Linked DNA regions of Homo sapiens. The protein of the gene in region 3 purifies or fractionates together with the protein of the main gene of each other region. This does not show direct contact. Each region holds a gene or a part of one and is shown on either strand. Other genes may lie near its edges. The genes, in order: DSG4, LYG2, SETDB2 and DUSP14.

What was found.
Region 1: the proteins of SETDB2 (region 3) and DSG4 purify together in Homo sapiens (affinity purification with mass spectrometry; 2 studies listed by BioGRID and IntAct, with this or other methods). This does not show direct contact.
Region 2: the proteins of SETDB2 (region 3) and LYG2 purify together in Homo sapiens (affinity purification with mass spectrometry; 2 studies listed by BioGRID and IntAct, with this or other methods). This does not show direct contact.
Region 4: the proteins of SETDB2 (region 3) and DUSP14 purify together in Homo sapiens (affinity purification with mass spectrometry; 2 studies listed by BioGRID and IntAct, with this or other methods). This does not show direct contact.

Annotation. Positions count from the first base shown.
Region 1 is NC_000018.10:31,403,246-31,408,437, forward strand, and holds part of DSG4 (desmoglein-4 isoform 2 preproprotein), read left to right. Parts: intron 1-170; coding exon 171-389; intron 390-2,831; coding exon 2,832-3,128; intron 3,129-5,192.
Region 2 is NC_000002.12:99,240,694-99,246,306, reverse strand, and holds the end of LYG2 (lysozyme g-like protein 2 precursor), read left to right. Parts: intron 1-848; coding exon 849-1,045; intron 1,046-2,169; coding exon 2,170-2,308; intron 2,309-3,824; coding exon 3,825-3,943; 3' UTR 3,944-4,061; downstream 4,062-5,613. UniProt on the Homo sapiens protein: May act as a potent antibacterial protein that may play a role in the innate immunity.
Region 3 is NC_000013.11:49,484,707-49,489,898, forward strand, and holds part of SETDB2 (histone-lysine N-methyltransferase SETDB2), read left to right. Parts: intron 1-923; coding exon 924-1,017; coding exon of another isoform or gene 1,018-1,088; exon of another isoform or gene 1,089-1,139; intron 1,140-3,583; coding exon 3,584-3,924; intron 3,925-5,192. Other genes in the region: SETDB2-PHF11 protein, read left to right, coding at 924-1,017. UniProt on the Homo sapiens protein: Histone methyltransferase involved in left-right axis specification in early development and mitosis. Specifically trimethylates 'Lys-9' of histone H3 (H3K9me3).
Region 4 is NC_000017.11:37,492,204-37,497,395, reverse strand, and holds part of DUSP14 (dual specificity protein phosphatase 14), read right to left. Parts: intron 1-5,192. UniProt on the Homo sapiens protein: Involved in the inactivation of MAP kinases. Dephosphorylates ERK, JNK and p38 MAP-kinases. Plays a negative role in TCR signaling by dephosphorylating MAP3K7 adapter TAB1 leading to its inactivation.

The DNA.
Region 1 (5,192 bases), on a different chromosome or scaffold from region 3:
GCACACAAAGGGAAGAGTGACTTTGGGTCACTGAAGCGGGCAGGAACCTGTCAAGCCTCCCAAGTCACGTATATGTTTCCTACAAGTTCCATGGCATCATCAGGGGATATGAGAAAGAGTTTTCTCCCTAACACCATTTACCTCAACACCAATGACCCTTACTCTTTCAGATGGCTCTGGAAAAACAGCTACAGGAACCATATGTATTGAGGTTCCTGATATCAATGATTATTGTCCAAACATTTTTCCTGAAAGAAGAACCATCTGCATTGACTCTCCATCAGTCCTTATCTCTGTTAATGAACATTCTTATGGGTCTCCGTTTACTTTCTGTGTTGTTGATGAGCCACCAGGAATAGCTGACATGTGGGATGTCAGATCAACAAATGGTAAGTGAAACGTAAGCTTGTTTTTTGGACTTTAAGTCCAAAAGCAAAACAATTACCAAAAAATGTGGCAAGTCACTTAATAAAACATTCTACTTCTGTTTCCACAGTTCTTGCCATATTAACATTAAATGAAAAAAATATTTCATGTACACAGAGGATATTTGATAAAATTTTGAACTGAAATGAAATGAGTCAAAATGTTTCATTAATATTTAATTTACAAATAGTAGTGGATAAATACCAGTTTACCCATCATTTTGAGTAGGTAAAACGTTGAACCAATATTTATTCAGTTTAAAATAAACAGAACCCTTAACAAACTCATAAATTAAGAATGTCACAATTCCCTATTCTGAATAAATTCAGACAAATCACATAAATGTCTCTGAAACTCATATATCCCATAGATACATTTAAACATTTACTACTCACTTAGGAGCACATAAAATCAATTAAATTGTTTTTTACAGTAACTATGAGTTCAGACTTATTTTTAAGGGTAAAAATTTAAATCCAAATTGCTCAGTATTAGAGGAATGATTAAACAGAGTACATATTATTAAGATGTGTTAATATACAGCCATTAAAATTAGAATTATGCAAAGTATGTAGATACAAAAGAATGCATAAACCAAAGAAAGTAAAGTGAAAAACAGATCACGAAGTTGTATATGTATGTATCTTGACTATAACTACATACAATTGAATGGCTGACATCGATAAAAATTAAGAATAAATTTCAGATAACATAACATTTTATCTACCTTGCGTTCTTTTTCCTAAAACGTTAAGTGCATAATAAAAAAGAAAATGCTATGAGAGGATCTCATATGGGCTAAGATAGCTCCCCAATCTCATATTCATTTGGGGCTACAGGGAAAATTTCATGGGCTAGTCGGTGGCCATCAGACTACAGAGCCCAGGGTGAGAGGAAATACTTCCCACCTCTTTAAGGTCACCAAGCCCCTCTATTTACAGAATGGAGAAACCCTAAAATAAGGTGGGGAAAATACCACCAATAAAGTAAGAAATTAGGCAATTTGTTTTTACCATCAAACCTTTAGCTCTTTTCAACAAAACCACTTTAATATTTTTTAAAGTTAATCATGTTAAAGCAATTCCATTAATATCAAGTCAACTCTGAATTCACCATCTCCTATAAAGCTCAATAGCCCATTCATAAACAATAATAATTGCTAACCACTTTTTTCCTCATTCGGATCCTAGATATTATGATTACACATGTAAGAAAAAATGTTCTGCATGGAGGTATAATATTATAGCTATTACAGGTTTGCCAATAAAAAATATAACCACACTGGAGATGATATTCCTAGAGACCTGTTTCAATGCTTGCTGGTGTTTTAGAACAGAATGAATTTCACTTAATGTGCTGTGGCATTGCCTTATCTCATTTTTACCTTGTGCACAGGTTAGATTTTGGTGGACATAGCTGGCTTGCCATCTAGCTAACTGAGGATAATAAACCATCATAATAAAAAATATTGTGTGCTATGGATCAATCAGTTACTATTCATGGTTTAGCTGTAAATTTAATCATCTCAACACTCCTTGTATTAATAAATAAATTCCAATGAATATTTTAGACAATATGTTTTATGAAAATTCATAGGCAATGATAGCACAAAGAATTAGGAGAATGTGAACAATTTTAAATGAAAGGGCAACAATTTTGAGTAAGATACATATAAACAGTCTTAAGGAGGGTATTGTGTAAACTGTAATCCTAAATAGAAGACTTCTAATATTTTCTTTCAGCTCAATATTATTTATTCATTGGGCAAATATTTATTGAATGTATATTATATGCCAATTACTGTTGCTCTGGAAAGATGCAGCAAGGTCCTTGCCTGCATTATAGAAGTAGCAATCCAGCAGTAAGCAATACTTATTTAAAAATTAGTTATAAATGTTAAAAAAAAAAAGAAAGAAAGAAAAGTAAAAAAGGCCAGGCAGAATGGCTCATGCTTGTAATCCAAGCACTTTAAGAGGCCAAGGCAGGTGGATTGCTGGAGCCCAGGAGTTCAAGACCACCCTGGGCAATATGGCAAAACCCTGTCTCTACTAAATGTATATATATTAGCCAGGCATGGTGCCACACACCTGTAGTCCCAGCTTCTCAGGAGACTGAGGTGGGAGAATCACTTAAACCTAGGAATCCAAGGCTGCAGTGAGTCATGTTCGTGCCACTGCACTCCAGCCTGGGCAATAGGAATGAGACTCTGTCTCAAAAATAACAAGAATAATAATAATAATAATAAATTAAATAAATGTTAAAAAAAAGTACAAGGTGCTTTATGACTAAGAAAGCATGAAAAATCTAGTGTTTTAAGTCAATATTTGGTATTAGGGAGAGTTAACCACCCCCCTAGCCCACCAAGGAATTTCCATTTATTTTCTGTTTCCTCTCTTCCATTTCAGCTACCTCGGCAATCCTTACGGCTAAGCAGGTTTTATCTCCAGGATTTTATGAAATCCCAATCCTGGTGAAGGACAGCTATAACAGAGCATGTGAATTGGCACAAATGGTGCAGTTATATGCCTGTGATTGCGATGACAACCACATGTGCCTGGACTCTGGTGCCGCGGGCATCTACACAGAGGACATAACTGGTGACACGTATGGGCCTGTCACTGAAGACCAAGCTGGAGTTTCAAATGTTGGTCTTGGACCAGCAGGGATTGGCATGATGGTTCTGGGCATCCTGCTACTGATTTGTAAGTACTCAATTAAATCCTTCTTTTCAATAGTTCTTCAAAATAGGGCTGTTACGAGGCTCGCTGGGATGGTTAGGTTCATGGAGCCATTTCTTTTTGGTATCTCTAGCAATTTTTGAGTGCCTTAGAAATAAACAATGGGACTGACAAATATATGCGCTTAATCCACAATGATAACTAAGAAAGCCTAGGGTGAGTGACAGTCCTAAAAATGGGAAACACATGCAAATCACTACATATACTACCTAAAAGCACAAAACAAATCCCATCATGGAAATTTCCTTAAAATGCTTTAAGAGTAGAGAGGCAGAAGCAATTAAGTCCATGTGGAAAAGTTAGGACAATCTTTTGGAAAAGTGGATTTTGAGGTGAGCCTGAAAAGCTGAGGATTTTTTTTTTCTTTTTTTCTTTTTCTTTTTTTTGAGATGGAATCTTGCTCTATTGCCCAGGCTGGAGTGCAGTGGCGCAACCTCGGCTCACTGCAACTTCTGCCTCCCAGGTTCAAATGATTCTCCTGCCTCAGCCTCCCGAGTAGCTGGGACTACAGGCGCCCACCACCACGACTGGCTAATTTTTGTACTTTTAGTAGAGACGGGGTTTCACCATGATAGCCAGGATGGTCTTGAACTCCTGACCTCGTGGTCCACCTGCCTTGGGCTCCCAAAGTGCTGGGATTACAGGCATGAGCCACTGCACCCTGCTGAGGATTTCTTTTAAAGGAGGATGATGTCTAAGGAAATTTGAAAGGTAATCAAACACACACACACAAAAAAAAACCACACACACAAACAAAAGGGAGCAAGATATGGAAGAGCATAGCACACCTAGGAAGCAGAGAGGCAAAAGGGAGTCTGGGAGCCAGCATGGAGGCATGTTCATGACACACCAGGCATTCTGGGCTTCAGTACAATGGCACAGAAGAGTTGATGAGGGCTGATGAGCGCAGGTGACCCTGCGGTAGGAAGCAAGTAGAAGAGACTAGAACAGAGAATTAGCCTCTGGGCTCTGGGTGAGTGCCTAAACTAAGACTGGTCACAGAAGTGGAAAGATCACCAAACAAAAATTTCCCAAAAAGGGCCCTCCTTTCCCCATAGAGTTTTTTTAAACATATAGATCCTCAGAGGAAGAATACTTCATACATTTTAGGTTGCCCTTGCAATATTTAGGTTTCATGGGGATCAAAAGCTGGGTTCTAAAATTAAAGAGAAGTAAATTTGTCAAACTGTATTGTTGCTGTTTTCAGGGATGAGCACTAATTAAAATGTAATCATTTCAAGGCATAAAAAATAACAGCTGACTTTTGGTGAGGATTTCTTTTTTGAAATAATCTGTGAGGTTTCAAAGCTATGCAAAGATCATGAGTGATTCTCACAATGATATTAGACACATTTTCCCAGAATATAACTCTACAGCAATTGAGTAGTGGTTTCGGGTAAGCTTTGAGTTAGCGGTTCTCAACCCTAGTTGTACATAAGAATTAGTTAAAGGTCTTCCAAAATTACTCATACTAGAGTCATACTCAAGATGAGACCAAGCATCAGCATGTTCAAGCCCTTTGGTGAGACTAATGTGCAGTTCAGGGCTAAAAACCCAGTGCCAGCTGCATTTCCAGAACGTTAGCACTAAGAATTTCAAGACTTTTTCCTGACCCAGACAAAGAAAGCATGAGAGTTGTTCAACTGATGGATTGTAGAATAGGAGAGGAATACCCCTATGGACACTTGTTTTCAATGGAGAAGCCCATGGTCTATTTTAGGAGAGAGGGGGCAGTGTGATGGTAGTGGGAGGGATCTGAGCCCAAACCTATGTTCCCAAAGGGCCTCAAATTGACACTTTTGATGTTAGCTCCAAATGAGATTACACATACAGTAATTGTATTGGGTATGTGCTAAAAACACTTCATTTCATTTATTAGATAGTGCCTTTGTTAGAGTTCAGGCCTGCAATGGTACATGATCCAGCTCACATTTAAATTCACAGAAATATAGAATAGGCAGAACCATGGCCTAGGGGCTACCAATTTTAGTTTTAGTCCTTTTCCAGAAAATGCTATGGAAATGTATA
Region 2 (5,613 bases), on a different chromosome or scaffold from region 3:
CTGGCAGCAACCACAAGGTCACATCAGACCCCAACCCCTCAAATTTACAAATCAGAGCCCAAAGACTCAGCAAGGAGGGGAATACTTCCCAATAGAACAGAACCAACTAGTGGCGGAGCCAGGCTAAAACATGCATTGGCTAACTCCTAGTACAACAGGCTTCCCAGTGCACTAGTGTGGCAGAATTTTTTTTGTGTGTATGACAGAGTCTTGCTTTGTCACCCAGGCTGGAGTGCGATGGCATGATCTCGGCTCACTACAATCTCCACCTCCCAGGTTCAAGCGATTCTCCTGCCTCAGTCTCCTGAGTAGCTGGGGTTACAGGTGCCTGCCACCAAGTCCAGCTAATTTTTGTATTTTTAGTAGAGATGGGGTTTCACCATGTTGGCCAGGCTAGTCTTGAGCTCCTGACCTCAAGTGATCTGTCCACCTCGGCCTCCCAAAGTGCTGGGATTACAGGCATGAGCAATTTGAAGGAGAAACAGAGCAGAAGCGACACCTGTTGGGGGTTGTGGATCTGTTTGTTTCTGCAGTCAGAGATCAAAAGGATGTCTTAGAATGGTTGTCCCAAGTCATTAGCAGTGATCAGAGGCTGTGGCTAACTTAGCAAATTTTTAAAAATGGTTTTCTTCTGAAGTAGAAGAAACAGTTTCTTTTCTTTTTTTAACTTTAAATTCTTTTTTTTTTTTTTTTTAATTAGAGATGGGCTCTCACTATGATGCCCAGGCTGGTTTCGAACTCCTCCTGGGTTCAAGCAATCCTCCTGTTTCAGCCTCCTGTGTAGCAGGAACTGACTTCAGGCACACACTACCATGCCCGGAAAAACAGTTTCTTTTCTATTGACGTAGGGATCCGTGGTTCTGAAATGTTTGCTGAGATGGATTTGAGGGCCATAAAACCTTACCAGACTCTGATCAAAGAAGTCGGGCAGAGACATTGCGTGGACCCTGCTGTCATCGCAGCCATCATCTCCAGGGAAAGCCATGGCGGATCTGTCCTGCAAGACGGCTGGGACCACAGGGGACTTAAATTTGGCTTGATGCAGGTATTTAGCTAGAAACTTTCTATCAGCCCCACTGCATCCCTCCTCACAGAAGCTCAACCTGAACTAGAAATCCATTTGCAGTGCTTCCAAGCCCCAAAATACCCTGGCATCTGGCTACAGGTACTCCAGCATAATTTTTTTTTTTTTTTTGAGATGGAGTTTCATTCTTGTTACCCAGGCTGGAGTGCAATGGCGTGATCTCGGCTCACTGCAACCTCCACTCCCGGGTTCAAGTGATTCTCCTCCCTCAGCCTCCTGAGTAGCTGGGATTACAGGCACACGCCACCATGCCCAGCTAATTTTTTGTATTTTTAGTAGAGACGGGATTTCACCTTGTTGGCCAGGCTGGTCTTGAACTCCTGACCTCAGGTGATCCACCCACCTCAGTCTCCCAAAGTGCTGGGATTACAAGCTTGAGCCACTGTGCCCGGCCACTCCAGCATAATTTGATCTGGGATTTCTGTAACACATCTTTTTATTTTATTCAAGGCTTATTCATTATTAGATATATTTTAAAAAGTATTTTAGGAGTTTCATAACTACCATTCTGCAATAAATAATATGTAATACACTAAAACTGAGAAAATCTTATAAATAGCATTATTGTTACAGGTGTCCTCTTGGGGTTCATGAAGTAGTAAATTTCATCCATGTGGATCAAAACATGGTATAACTGTGCCCTACTTGAAACAACTTGTTCCTTTGGGTAAACTGGAGGAAGGGGATCCAAATTATCTGGATATTTGCTTCCAGGCTCGATTTTAAATTGTCTGTAGAAATACAGACTTCTGGCCTTCCCAGTTAGAAACAAATTTTTATCTGAATTAGCTGGATAATTATTTATTACTATAAATGTGTAGACTTTGGGTGTTATTTGTTTCAAAACAACTTAAATTTTTTTTTTGTATATTAGAATGTTTAGCTAAAACTATACCATGTCCATTTCTCCCAAACCTTACTTTGTTTCTCTGACTCTCATCTATATGAAAGAAAGAACAATAGAATTGACTCTTTGGGGATAAAGGCCGGTATCTATGACTTGAATACCAGGAGAGGAAATTAGGAATGGCAGAAAAAATGTGTTACCTCATCCAGATGCTGACTTTATTATCTGAATTTTCTAGCTTGATAAACAAACGTACCACCCTGTCGGTGCCTGGGATAGCAAAGAGCACCTTTCACAGGCTACTGGGATTCTAACAGAGAGAATTAAGGCAATCCAGAAAAAATTCCCCACGTGGAGTGTTGCTCAGCACCTCAAAGGTAGGCTGTATTCTGAGTACTTTGTTTAAATGAGCAATGAATGAGACCACTGAAGGCCAGTGTGACCCGAGACTCCCTGGGAGCATTTCCACGGGGTCAGCAGTGGCCCTGGGAGGAGCTGTCTAGAGGCTGCATTTGCATTCCCTGAACCACTGAGTTACTTTGAGAGGTCCTCCATCCTCAACCTCCATTTCCTCTTCTGCAGAATGTTGGGGTTCTTATTCATTGCTTACTGAGCTATTGAGTGATACCTTGAAACATAGTGAGACCCTGTCTCTACAAAAAAAAAAAAAAAAAAAAAAAAAGCTGGGCATGGTGACACACAGTCCCAGCTACTCAGGAGGCTAAGCCAGGAGGATTGCTTGTGCCTGGGAGGTTAAGGCTGCAGTGAGCATTGATTACATCACTGCACTCCAGCCTGGGAGACAGAGTGAGACCCCATCTCTCAAAAAAAAATTTATCTATCTATCTATCTATCTATCTATCTATCTATCTATCTATCTATCTGTTTGCCTACCTCTCATAGGTTTTTTCCTGTTATAAGAAACTGTCAACAACTTTCCAAATTGTCTGAACAATGTTACTCTGTGAGTATTTTCGGGACTTCAGGTGCTATATATCCAAGTGGAAATCTCTGCTTGGCTGACCACAGGCCCCCTCAAGTTCAGCATCTCCCAGATGGAATTAACTCACTAACTTCCCACTATAAATTTGCTCTTTCTTCTGCATTTTACATGTCTTGGAGGCACCATAATATAGCCAGTCATCCCAGCCTGAAAACCAGATTGCTTTCTTAGGCTCTCTGGTTCCTTCTCTCTTCACACCCAACCACATCAATTCCTATTAGGTTTGCCTCCTATTGGCCAATGTTATGTCCTCCACACTCTAACGGCCTTAATCAGAACAGTTTCTAGTCTCTACTTCAAGGTCCTTGAAGGCAGGGATCAGGACCAGGCATCTTCCTCTCTGGATATCAGAGCAGAGCACAATTATGTTAAACACATACATAACTACTAGAGATAAAATTCTAGGGTAAAATAGCACACACATGCATATGTACACATACCCAAAGAAATAAGTGTGTCTTGGGTACCTTGCAGTCAGTGTGGCACCTCTCCTGGCACATAGTAGGTGCTTGAAAACATTTCCTGAATGAATAAATGAGTGAGTGAATAGATGAGTGAATTATTGAATAAATGAGAGAATGTTACAAGCATTTTCAGCAGAGGATGTACTGGGAGTCTAGTTCTGCCAGGCCTGGATTACATAAAAAAGCAAATCTGATTTTTGCAACAAGAAAAACCAAAGACTTTGGAAAAAGAGAAAGAAAGCAATCTGGAATTTTCCCAGTGATTCTTGGGATAGCACGTCCTTTCAGAAAGGGAGGGAGAGGGAGGAGGATTTGGGACTGCCTGCTTTGGAAGATTTGCCTGGAAAGCTAACATCTTGGCAATGCTCATTGCTTATTTCTGTTGAAAGTTAATATTTGAGCCTAATTCTCTGTGTTTCATTTCAGGTGGTCTCTCAGCTTTTAAGTCAGGAATTGAAGCGATTGCCACCCCATCGGACATAGACAATGACTTCGTCAATGATATCATTGCTCGAGCTAAGTTCTATAAAAGACAAAGCTTCTAGGCAAAGCTCTGTGGGTGGGCCAGGTTGGCAGAGTGCTCAGATGGCCGCCTTTGAGAGTTTTACGTGAATGTGTTGTATACAACACTGGCAAAGAAATGATTAAAATCATGAAAGAAAATTCATTTCCCAATTTTCTGAATGAAAATAAGCATTGAAAAAAGGAAAGAAAAATAAAAGAAATCCATCCAGTTCACAATATGGTTCCTAGGAAACGGACATAGACATATATATAATTACTTTGCAGTAAATGTGAATATCATGGCAAATGGTCCCTAGGTATTCCAGCCAGGCTTCATTTTAGCCTGTGATTCCAATGCCCACCTACTCCCTGTCTACCAGAATTGCTAACAAGTTAAGTAAGCCTTACCCGAGCCTTTGTCTTTTTTCCAGTATCTGCCCAGAGCCCTCAGGCTTTGCTTATGAGAAGTTCCTGACTCGTAAGCCAGCCAATCCATGGGACAATGGAAGAAATAGGGATGGAATTCTAGCTTCATGGGAAACTGAGAGCCAACTGAGGTGAAGCTGTCATTCAAGTTAGATACACCAAGTCCTTCAAACCCACAGCAACCTCCTGTGTTTTCTTTTGTCTGTGAAGATCCAGGGACTGGCTTTTCTTATTTTCAGCAGTTGCTGCCACACGCTTTCTTTCACGGGGTCCATCCCTCACAAAACATGGCTGAAGATAAGCATGTAGGACCCAAATCAATTATGGTTCTTTGGTTGCAAGCAAAAGTAACCACTTATAGAAATTTTAAGCATTAAAAAGAAATTACTGGAAGGCTAACAGAACAAACTAAGAAGGTCAAGGAGATGAAGAGACACCAGGCAACTCTGGGGTCTGGGTAGCAGGAATGGGTTAACCATACTTTACAGCATCCATAGTAAGCAAATGAATTAGCACCCTCACCAGTATCCTCATATATGTACTCCAAACACCTGTTTCTGATTATGTCTTCATTCTGCGTCACTTTCATAGTGCCAGGAGAGGTTCGGAGCTATTTATCTTGGGTCACATACAAACCTACCCTTTGGCTATTTTGCTACCTTGGTCTTGCTCACACTACCTACAATGGAGAAGAGACAACTCTCTGGAAGGAAACTGTGTGCTGTTTGTGGCCTTTACTTCCATAGTCAGGAGAGGACACAAGTGATAACACGTTGGAGTGTAAAGTGGACGTGTGACACTGTGGCCCTGCTGGGCCTTTAACTCCCTTTGGAGATGTTCAATGAATGTTTCAGTCCATCACTTCTGTTTCTGAGAAGGAATCAAAATCATACACACCTGCCTCTGAGCCCTCTTGGAGAAAGCCAAGTAAATCCTTCTTTGCCCACTGACCTCTCAACCCAGCCTGAATATTTGACCCAGGCAGCACCAGGAATCCTTGTTTCACTGGGCAGGGCCAATGGTCAGTTTGTGTGGCAGGCCCTTAGCAGGTAGGCCAGCAGCTTCTATGACTGGTTGAGGCCCATGCTGTACCAGGTGTTAAATATTTTTATTATCCTCCCTGCATGTGGGCCATCCAGGATGCTCTTCAGATGTTCACTTTGCTCAGGAATGATTTATTTTGGGCTTTCCCTCACATGCATGAATTTCATCTAATCACTAGCCCCTTCAATGTCACTACTTCAACAATAAAGTACATCTAGATGAGATCACTTTCAGGTAATTT
Region 3 (5,192 bases):
AGCAGAGAAAGAGAAAAGAGAACAAAGAGAGACATAATGGTAGCTTACTTTAGGGCTTGTTGATGAAGAGTAAAAACTCTGCTTTAGGTGTTATGCAAATATTTGCCCTCTGCCTGGTAATGGTACAGTAGCTACCTCCTTAAGGTCAGAGAATTATGAAAAGATTGGCCATGGTGTCACACAGACCCAGGTGTAACCTCCAGCTCTGCTGCGTGCTAGCTGGGTGGTATCTCCATACATACATTTCTTTTATCTGTAAAAAGGTAATAGTATATGTTTCAGAATTATGAGGATTAAATGAGATAAGCATCAGCAACTTGCTTAGCATCCAACTAAGTGCTCAATACATGTTGACCATTCACATGCTGAGAACTTTCATAGTAATAATATGGTCAATGTGTATTGAATACTTAGTTGGTTGCCAAGCATTGTGCTGAGTATATACGCCTCTTTTAAAGTTATCATTACTACTTAAAGTGACTGCAGTGTCTACAATGTGTAAGCATTATCACATTCGTTAACCTTTCTTTGAAGTAGAAACTAGCCAATGAGTGTTTTTCATCTTTACACAACTTACAGTTGAAGGCAAATTTATAATCTAGTAATAACACTTTCTAAGTACTGAGATGATTAGAATTGGGGGATACAGACAGGGATGCATTAAGATTTTAATTCCCAAAGAATTTCTTGACAGTCTTTATAGCTGTGGCTTAATAAAGCACCTAGAAGTAGAACAGAGTCAAAGGGGATGACACTTGTTGACTCCATTAGTCTAAAGACTCCTTATGATATCAGCTTTGAGGCTTTTCAAAACGAATCTAGTACATATAGCCTATGATGATTGACACTTGATGAAAGAGGCCTAACTGCTAAATACTTTTGCCTGACCTGGAAAGTAAAGACATCTTCCTTGTTTTTTTAAGGAATTTGTTTCCTCGGAGTCTGTCACTCCAGAAGATAATGATGGATTTAAACCACCCCGAGAGCATCTGAACTCTAAAACCAAGGGAGCACAAAGTAGGCTTTGTTTCTTCTGTGAATGCCTACCTCTTCTGCCTGTTTCTCTGTCTCTTGCTCAATACCTGTAGCTCATTTTCTTAGATTCCATAATAAACATGCTGCATTTGTCAGAAAGGTTACAACTTGTCTACATAAGAGATCAGCAAAATATCGTGTGTGGGCCAAATCTGGCCCTCTACCTGTTCAGTATGGCATGTGAGCTAAGAATGATATTTATGTTTTTAAATAGTTGAAAAAAATCAGAAGGTGATAATATTTTGACACTTGAAAATTATATGAAATTACAATTTTAGTGTCCAGAAATAAAGTTTTGGCCAGGTGCAGTAGCTCACGCCCGTAATCTTAGCACTTTGGGAAGCCAAGGCAGGAGGGCTGCTTGAGGCTATGAGTCTGGGCAATGTAGCAAGATCTTGTCTCAACAACAACAAAATAGCCAGGTGTGGTGGTGCACACCTGAGGTCTTAGCTACTCAGGGGGCTGAGGTGGGAGGATTGTTGAGGTCAGGAGTTTGAGGTTACAGTGAACTATGATTGTGCCACGGTACTGCAGCCTGGGCGATAGAACAAGACCCTGTCTCAAAAAAAAAAATAAAATGTAAGTTTTATTGGAATACAGCCAATTTACATTATATATTGTCTGCTTCAACATTACAGCAAGAGTTGAATAATCACAACAGAGACCACCACATGGCCAGCAAAGCCTGAAATATTTGCTATTTTGCCTTCTGCAGGAGAACTTTGCTGACCTCTGGTCTAATTGCCAGTAGTGACTTGATGCATGACAAGAGGGGTGGGCTGGAAAACTCTTGAGTCTTTGTGGTGCACAGGTGTTGTCCGTGGCTTTGGAACCATTGTGCAAAGCAGCCACTTTCAAACTCTTTGTAGACGCCTTTAAAAATAAACACACATCACTTTCCTGCAATTGCCTAGCCAATACTGCCGCAGAGCATACTCAGCTTGACTCTGGCAAAAGGCTAAAATATTGCCACCCTGAGTCCTTGTGTTTCAGAGTTACTAGTCCTTGCCATAGTTAATATTACAACTGGACAAACATTGTTTTTGGTACTTTTGCATTTCACTGTGTCCTTCACAAGGAGACATTGCTGAGAGATATCCGTTTGTGAAGAATTGGTGAGCCACTGCTGTCTCTTCCCCCCTGCAACCGCAGCTCTCCACCTAATATTAAAGGATGGAGATTGGAGGAGACATGGCAGTTCCTTGATAGAAAAGGTCTATCAAAAAAGGGGATTTTGTGTATTATATTTATTTTATCATGCATGTGAGCCACAGTGCATACCGTTGCTTTTGGTTCTTTTGCCCTTTTCATTGACTGCTACAATATATATAGCGGGTACTCCAAAAGTCAAAAGCTACATACTTTTTGTATAAAAAAATCCAAAGTTGTATTATGGCTTACACGTAACCCATGATTAAAATATAAGTACATATAGGAACAGCAGCCAGCAACAACAGTGATGATTAAATCAAGAGCCTCAATTTTAGACAAGTATAATTTCTTTGCGCCATTGAATTAGGTGGTCCAAATAGCTTTGTGGCTCTTTTAAAGTAAGTAATTTATACTTACTCCATCTGACATGCATTCATATCTTTTCTTTTTTTTTTAAAGAGAGACAGCGACTCATTCTGTCACCCAAGCTGGAGTGCAGTGGTGGGATCATAGCTCACTGTACCTTCCAATTCCTGGGCTCAAACAGTCCTCCCACCTCAGTCTCCTGAGCAAACAGGACTACAGGCACACACCCCCTTGTTGGCTAATTTCTTTTTTTTAAAATTTTTTGTAGAGATGGGGTCTCACTTTGTTGCCCAGGCTGGTCTTGAATTCCTGGCCTCAAGCATCCTCCTGCCTTGGCCTCCCAAAGTGCTGGGATTACAGGCATGAGCCACCATGCCCAGCCATATTCATACTCTTGAATACTCTCAAAAAATTATTTTCCTTATTGGATAAGAAAAACGATTAAGCAGTGCATCTGCTTTTAAAGGATTATTGTTTACAAAGGTGTAATTATTGAATGGTCATCTAGTAAAACACCAAACACTAATATGTGCAAAACCCCTAGCAATACAGTTGTCACTGCTGGGACTTGTGGAAGGTGTCTCTGTCAGGGTTAGGCCTTTTATTGGCAGCATAAAGGCCTAGAGTGCCTCCAAAACACCCACTCTGTTACATTTGTTTAGAATATACTTAAGTGCAGATTCCAGAATTAAAGAGAAGAAAGTCAGTTTATTATGAGTAGAGATTAAATATAATAATGAAGAAGCAAGATGTAGATTCATAAAAAGGCATTGTTACGTAGTAGAAAGAAGGCAGACTTTGGGATTCAAACATTTCTAGGTTTGTTACCCCAGTTCTCGTTATTGTGGGTCAGATGAATTCCTTAATCCCTCAGAGAAAGTTTCCTTTATACAATTAAAATAATACTACCTGCCTAACACATTGTAAGGATCGATAATTAAAGCACCTAGCATCTAATTAGTGTTGTTAATTTCAGCACTATTGCTCAGCAAGTATATTTCCTGATGTTTCCTTCCAAAATGTCTATTAGAGGACTCAAGTTCAAACCATGTTGATGAGTTTGAAGATAATCTGCTGATTGAATCAGATGTGATAGATATAACTAAATATAGAGAAGAAACTCCACCAAGGAGCAGATGTAACCAGGCGACCACATTGGATAATCAGAATATTAAAAAGGCAATTGAGGTTCAAATTCAGAAACCCCAAGAGGGACGATCTACAGCATGTCAAAGACAGCAGGTATTTTGTGATGAAGAGTTGCTAAGTGAAACCAAGAATACTTCATCTGATTCTCTAACAAAGTTCAATAAAGGGAATGTGTTTTTATTGGATGCCACAAAAGAAGGAAATGTCGGCCGCTTCCTTAATGTGAGTATAAGGGCTGAGATTCCTATTTCTGAACAACTGTTTTTTTCTATGCTACTTAACAAAATTATGAGGAAAATAAACAGACTCTAAAGTCAGACCATCTGGTTAGAATTCCAGTCCTCCACTTGTATACAGTTGGATGTTTTACTTGACCTCTGATACCTCATTTTCTACCTCTGTAATACAGGGATAAATGATAACTGTCTCAGGATGTTATGAGAATCTAATGAATTAACATTAAGTGCTTAGAACAGTGCCTAGCACATAGTAAACATTTGCTTTTAAAAAACTGTAAGAAATGGTGTATAAGAAAAGTATTTAAATATATCAGATTTAAATAAGCTCACTTACCTGAGTTGAAAAAAATGTATGGCTAGGAAGTTATCAGTGAAGTTAAATGGTGGCAGATATGTCCAAAGAATACTGCAGGGATTTAATGGTGTATTAATATGGAAAGATTGCCACAATATACTGGTTTTTTGGTTTTTATTTTTTGTTTTTTTTGAGACAGAGTCTCACTTTGTCACCAGTGGCACAATCTCAGCTCACTGCAACCTCCGCTTCTGGGGTTCAAGCAATTCTCATGCCTCGGCCTCCTGAGTAGCTGAGATTACAGGCGTTAATGAATCACATGATGAATGTGTGGAGATGGCGGCTAGTGGGCAACAGAGCAATACTGGAATAGTGCTAATATGAGGAAATGGTATCATCTATTTAGAAGCCTCGGAACGACGATACATAATGGCTATCTTCAGCAAAGAAATTTGTTGCTTACAATATCTCCTCTCCAAAAGGCTTGTTTGTTACAGTGATGTAAAAATTAGGTTCTGTACATCTTCATATTAAACTTACTTTGTGAAAACTTTTTGTTTAAAAAAAAAAAAAAAAGCCATACCTTGAGAAGTACTGTGCTCCTGTTCCCATGCCCCGACTCCACCTTCTCTCTGTAGGTCATCATATTTATTCTTTTTTTTTTTTTTTTTTTGAGACCGAGTCTTGCTCTGTCACCAGGCTGGAGTGCAGTGGTGTGATCTCGGCCCACTGCGATCTCCGCCTCCTAGGTTCAAGCGATTCTCCTCATCAGCCTCCTGAGTAGCTGAGATTACAGGTGTGCACCACCATGCCTGGCTAATTTTTGCATTTTTAGTAGAGACACAATTTCACCATGTTGGTCAGGCTGGTCTTGAACTCCTGACCTCAAGTGATCTGCCTGCCTCGGCCTCCCAAAGTGCTGGGATTACAGGTGTGAGCCACCGCACCTGGCCTTA
Region 4 (5,192 bases), on a different chromosome or scaffold from region 3:
GCCAAGGCAGGTGGATCACTTGAGGTCAGGGGTTTGACCAGCCTGGCCAACACAGTGAAACCCCATCTCTATTAAAAATACAAAAATTAGCTGGGCATGGTGGCATGTGCCCGTAATCCCAGCTACTCAGGAGGCTGAGGTAAGAGAATCACTTGAACCTGGAGGGCGGAGGTTGCAGTGAGCTGAGATTGTGCCACTGAACTCCAGCCTGGGGAAGAGACTCTGTCTTTAAAAAAAAAAAATGCAGTTTGAAGTAAAATTGATATTTAAATAGAGTTGGAAGGAAATGTACCAAATTCATGGGAGTGGTTGTCTCAGTGGGAAGGGAAGAGAAATGGCCCAAGGAAGCTCTGACTTGATAATACTTAATTTCTAAGCATTATAAAAGATAAAGTATGAGCAATGATTTTTGAATGGTGAGTTATGATGCTGGTTAATTTGCTTTCAATAATTTTCTTTTCTTTTTTTTTTTTTTTTTTTGAGACAGAGTCTTACTCTGTTGCCCAGGCTGGAGTGCAGTGGCTCAATCTCTGCTCACTGCAACTGCCTCGTCCTGGGTTCAAGCAATTCTCCTGCCTCAGTCTCCCAAGTAGCTGAGATTACAGGTGCATGCCACCACACCCGGCTAATTTTTTGTTTGTTTGAGATGGAATCTCGCTCTTTCACTCAAGCTGGATTGCAGTGGTATGATCTTGGCTCACTTGAACCTCCGCCTCCCAGGTTCAAGCAATTCTCTGTCTCAGCCTCTGGAGTAGCTGGGATTACAGGGGCCCACGACCACTCCCGGCTAATTTTTGTATTTTCAGTAGAGACGGGGTTTCACTATGTTGGTCAGGCTGGTTTCGAACTCCGGACCTCATGATCCACCCGCCTCAGCCTCCCAAAGTGCTGGGATTACAGGCATGAGCTACCGTGCCCGGCCTAACACCCGGCTAATTTTTACATTTTTATAAGAGATGGGGTTTCACCATGTTGGTCAGGCTAGTCTCGATTGAACTTTTGACCTCAAGTGATCCACCTGCCTCAGCCTCCCAAAGTGCTGGGATTATAGGCGTGAGCCACTGTGCCCAGCATAATTTTCTATATGATTTCAATTTCTAAAAGTAAAAAATATTTTTAATAGAAGAAAATTAACAACACATAGTTGTCGGTCCAAGCCCCCTCTCCACTTCTGGCCTGAGCCTGCCAGTGCTCTTTATATAGGAGCCAGGATAACACCAAAGATTTATAATGATGACATGAAGTGTGTCTTCATTATAAATGTTTTGTGTTTTATAATGAAACACAAAGATTTAAAAGATTTAGTTAAATCTAAGATTTAGATTTTAGCTAAATTGGCAAAATTCTTCATTATAAATCTCCAAATTTGTATGTAATTTGTATGTTGACAGTACTTCCAGATTTTATTTTTACAAGTGCTTCCTTAAAACTTAAAGCAGGCTGGGCGCGGTGGCTCATGCCTGTAATCCCAGCACTTTGGGGGTCCGAGGCAGGTGGATCACGAGGTCATGAGATCGAGACCAGCCTGACCAACATGGTGAAACCCTGTCTCTACTAAAAATAGAAAAATTAGCTGGGCGTGGTGGCATGCGCCTGTAATCCCAGCTACTCGGGAGGCTGAGGCAGGAGAATTGCTTGAACCTGGGAAGCGGAGGTTGCAGTGAGCCGAGATCGCGCCACTGCACTCCAGCCTGGTGATGGAGCAAGACTCCGTCTCAAAAAAAAAACAAAAAAACAAAAAAAACAAAACTTAAAGCAAGTTCACCTACTGGTCACTTTCCCAGGCAGGGAAGGCTGGTGCTTTGAAGGCGCTCTCTGCCACATAATGTTTACTAGTCAACAGAAGCAGCATGCTCTAGTTAGGGAGTTTTCTCATATGTACCCACACACTCAAAGACATAGGAGTCAAAACAAACAAACAAACAAACAAAAAAACTTGCCCTAGGTCATTGATGCTGAAACTGTTCTGGGACAAAGACAGAAGTAAACCCAGCAGTTGCATATGAACTTCAAAAGAACCTTCTCGTCCACTGAGGTTTCAACATGGCATGGGGTGTGAAAAGCTGACCCAACCGGACCTCTGGTTGCTCTAGGTTGGTGCAAGAACAGAATGGGACGTGCCCAGGTGAGCTGGGTGGGCTGCACATGAAAGGGCATGGCTGTGATCTCAGCCCTAGGCCTCCTCCCTCGCCCAGGCTGAGGCTGCCCCTGCCCTGCAACAGGTGGAAAATGGAGCTCCTTTGTGAAAGCTGCCCGCTGGAAGGCCGAAGGGGTGACAAAGAACACGACAGGGCTCCTCCCCCATCACTCAGATCAACAGGTTCTCATACTAACGACTTCTTACTCCTCCTCCTTTGGGTGTCTTTTCCTGAAAACTTCTAATTTATCCGCATGTGGTTTCTAAAATTATCATTATTTTAGAGAATCTGAAAAAAAATCTTTACTATAATGAGCAAAAAAGTCTTTGTGACTTATGTAAATAAAGACTGAAAATAGAGTGATTTAGCTATTTTCCAAGATGCTTTAGAGAAGAAATAAAAAGGATCTACAAATCTCAGTCTTTGTGCTAGTGTTCTTCCATCATCCCTCCAGCTAAAAAGGATTCCCCTGAGGTATTTTGTAAACCTACAGAATTGCGTAACATTCTGCTCTAAGGGCAGAAACACAGCACATAATACTAGGCACATGGTAAGTACTCAATGAACACCTGAATTTAACGGCTGCCCTCAGGTGAACTGCCCACCTCTCCCCACACCCTCCCTCCTGCTCCTTCTCTTTCTCACATTCTCTCACTCTCTCTCACACACACACTTCAAATCCAGCTGGCAAAACTAAACACGGGCAATCAAAGTGAGCCTGGTAACTGTCTGTTCACAAAGCAGGAATTCAAGCTGGATGTGGCACATGCTGCAGTCCCAGCTTTTAGGAGGCTGAGGTGGGAGGATCCCTTGAGCCCAGCAGTTCAAGGCCAGCCTGAGCCACACTGCTAGACTCCATCTCTTACAAAGAAAATGAACAAAAACGACAAAAACTCTGCTCTAAGCTACTTCTACTTTCTCAGGCAAAGGAAAATTTGGAGAAAAATACATTTAAAAGATTTAAAGGCTGGGTGCGGTGGCTCACGCCTGTAATCCCAGCATTTTGGGAGGCCGAGGCGGGCGGATCACGAGGTCAGGAGATTAAGACCATTCTGACTAACATGGTGAAACCCCGTCTCTACTAAAAATACAAAAAATTAGCCGGGCATGGTGACGGGCACCTGTGGTCCCAGCTACTAGGGAGGCTGAGGCAGGAGAATGGCATGAACCTGGGAGGCGGAGCTTGCAGTGAGCCGAGATCGCGCCACTGCACTCCAGCCTGGGCGACAGAGTGAGACTCTGTCTCAAAAAAAAAAAAAAAAAGTTTAAAAGAGTCATTGATTCCTGTAGCACAGAGTCTGTGGTTACTTTGGAATTGCCAAGAAGTATGAGTTAGGGTCTGTGCACAGTGCCTCTTAAGGAGTCTCATCCTCAGAGGGTACTTTAACAAGGATAGGCCTGGGTTCCTGCACACTACACTGTCCTACACATTTAGGGCTGGGCACAATGGAAGCATTCACCAGAGGCAGGATTCATTCAAGAGCCTTAAAAAACATCTAGGTACTAGCCACTTATTTTTAGTACTTCATTTTGCATATTTAAAATTTCCTGTAACTACTCATCTGTTCCAAAAAAAAAAAAAAAAGATTGATGAAAGGATTCCATTAGATATTTGTCAACCAAACACAGTGGGAAAACCATTTCTGGTATTTGGGTGGTTAGTCCAAACCATATAACTAAATAAAAATACGCTAGCACATGACAGGCCAGGGATCGGACTACCCAGGGACCTTTATTCATTCATTCAGAAAATATTCAAGCATAATTGTGGTTAAACAGCAAATACAGTGACTTACAAACTCAAGGCTGACACCACTGAAGGAATGTAAATTGGTACAACCACTTTGGAAACCAGGTATCAACTAGTAAAGCTGAAGGTATGCACACCTGACTCAGGGCTGTTCATAATTGCCCCAGACCAGAAACAACCCAGATGTCCATCAACAGTGGAAAGGTAATTTGTGGTATGTTCATAAGACAAAAATGTACTAACTGGGCTGGGTGTGGTGGCTCACACCTGTAATCCCAGCACTTTGGGAGGCCCAGGCAGGAGGATCCCTTGAGCCCAGGAGTTCAAGACCAGCCTGGGCAATATAGTGAGACCTTGTCTCTAAAAAAATTAAAACACAAAAACTACAGGCATAGGCAACGATATGGATAAATCTTTTAAAATAGCATGCTGCAGAAATTTAAAAAATTATATATGTGCGTGTGTATATACATACATACACACACACATACATACACATACACACACACACACACGATGCCGGCCAGAAGGAAGGATTCACAAGAGTATCTACTTTTAGTTTGCACTGAGGTTAAAAACAAGCAAAATAAAACTATGTCAATTAGGGATTTATATTTAGGGGATAAAAACTATAGAAAAGAAGGAAATGATTTCCATAAAAGTCAGGGTAGTTTCTGGCTAGGACCTCTGGGGGAGGGAGAGAGTGTGGAGTCAGATTCTTGACCTGCAAGACAGTTACACTTATGTTTTCGTTAAAATAATCCATCAAATTATCCATTTGTTTTAGACACTTTTTTACATAATTCACAATTCAATAAATCTAATGTTGATTTCTGGGAATTCAGAACCATGACAACAATTCTGGCCAACTCTCTCTGAATGTCACTATTTGCCTGTCAGCTTCATAAGGTCAGAGACCGACCTTACTTGCCTTCTTCCTCTGTATTCAGGCACAGCACCTTTAGCATGGTAAAAGTCCTCGGTAAATGTATAATATATAAATCCACAGAATCCTGACATGAATTTTGTTTTAACCCATCCATTTCCTGAAATTACCGGTTTGAAGGGTGCCCACATTAACACTTTCCTTTGTCTTCACCCAGGTGAAGTGAAGCTTTCATAAATAATAAAGCCATCTTAAATGTTAGCTCTGTAAGTTTATACCCAGGCCTTGGTTGCTTTAGCAACTCTCCCTGTCTTCCACTCCCTTTGACGTTTCTTTATAAGCAAAGACAAGACAATAGGCTAGTAGTCCTAGATTTTTTTTTTAAATAGGAAAGTTTTATTCAGCACCTAAGAGTAAA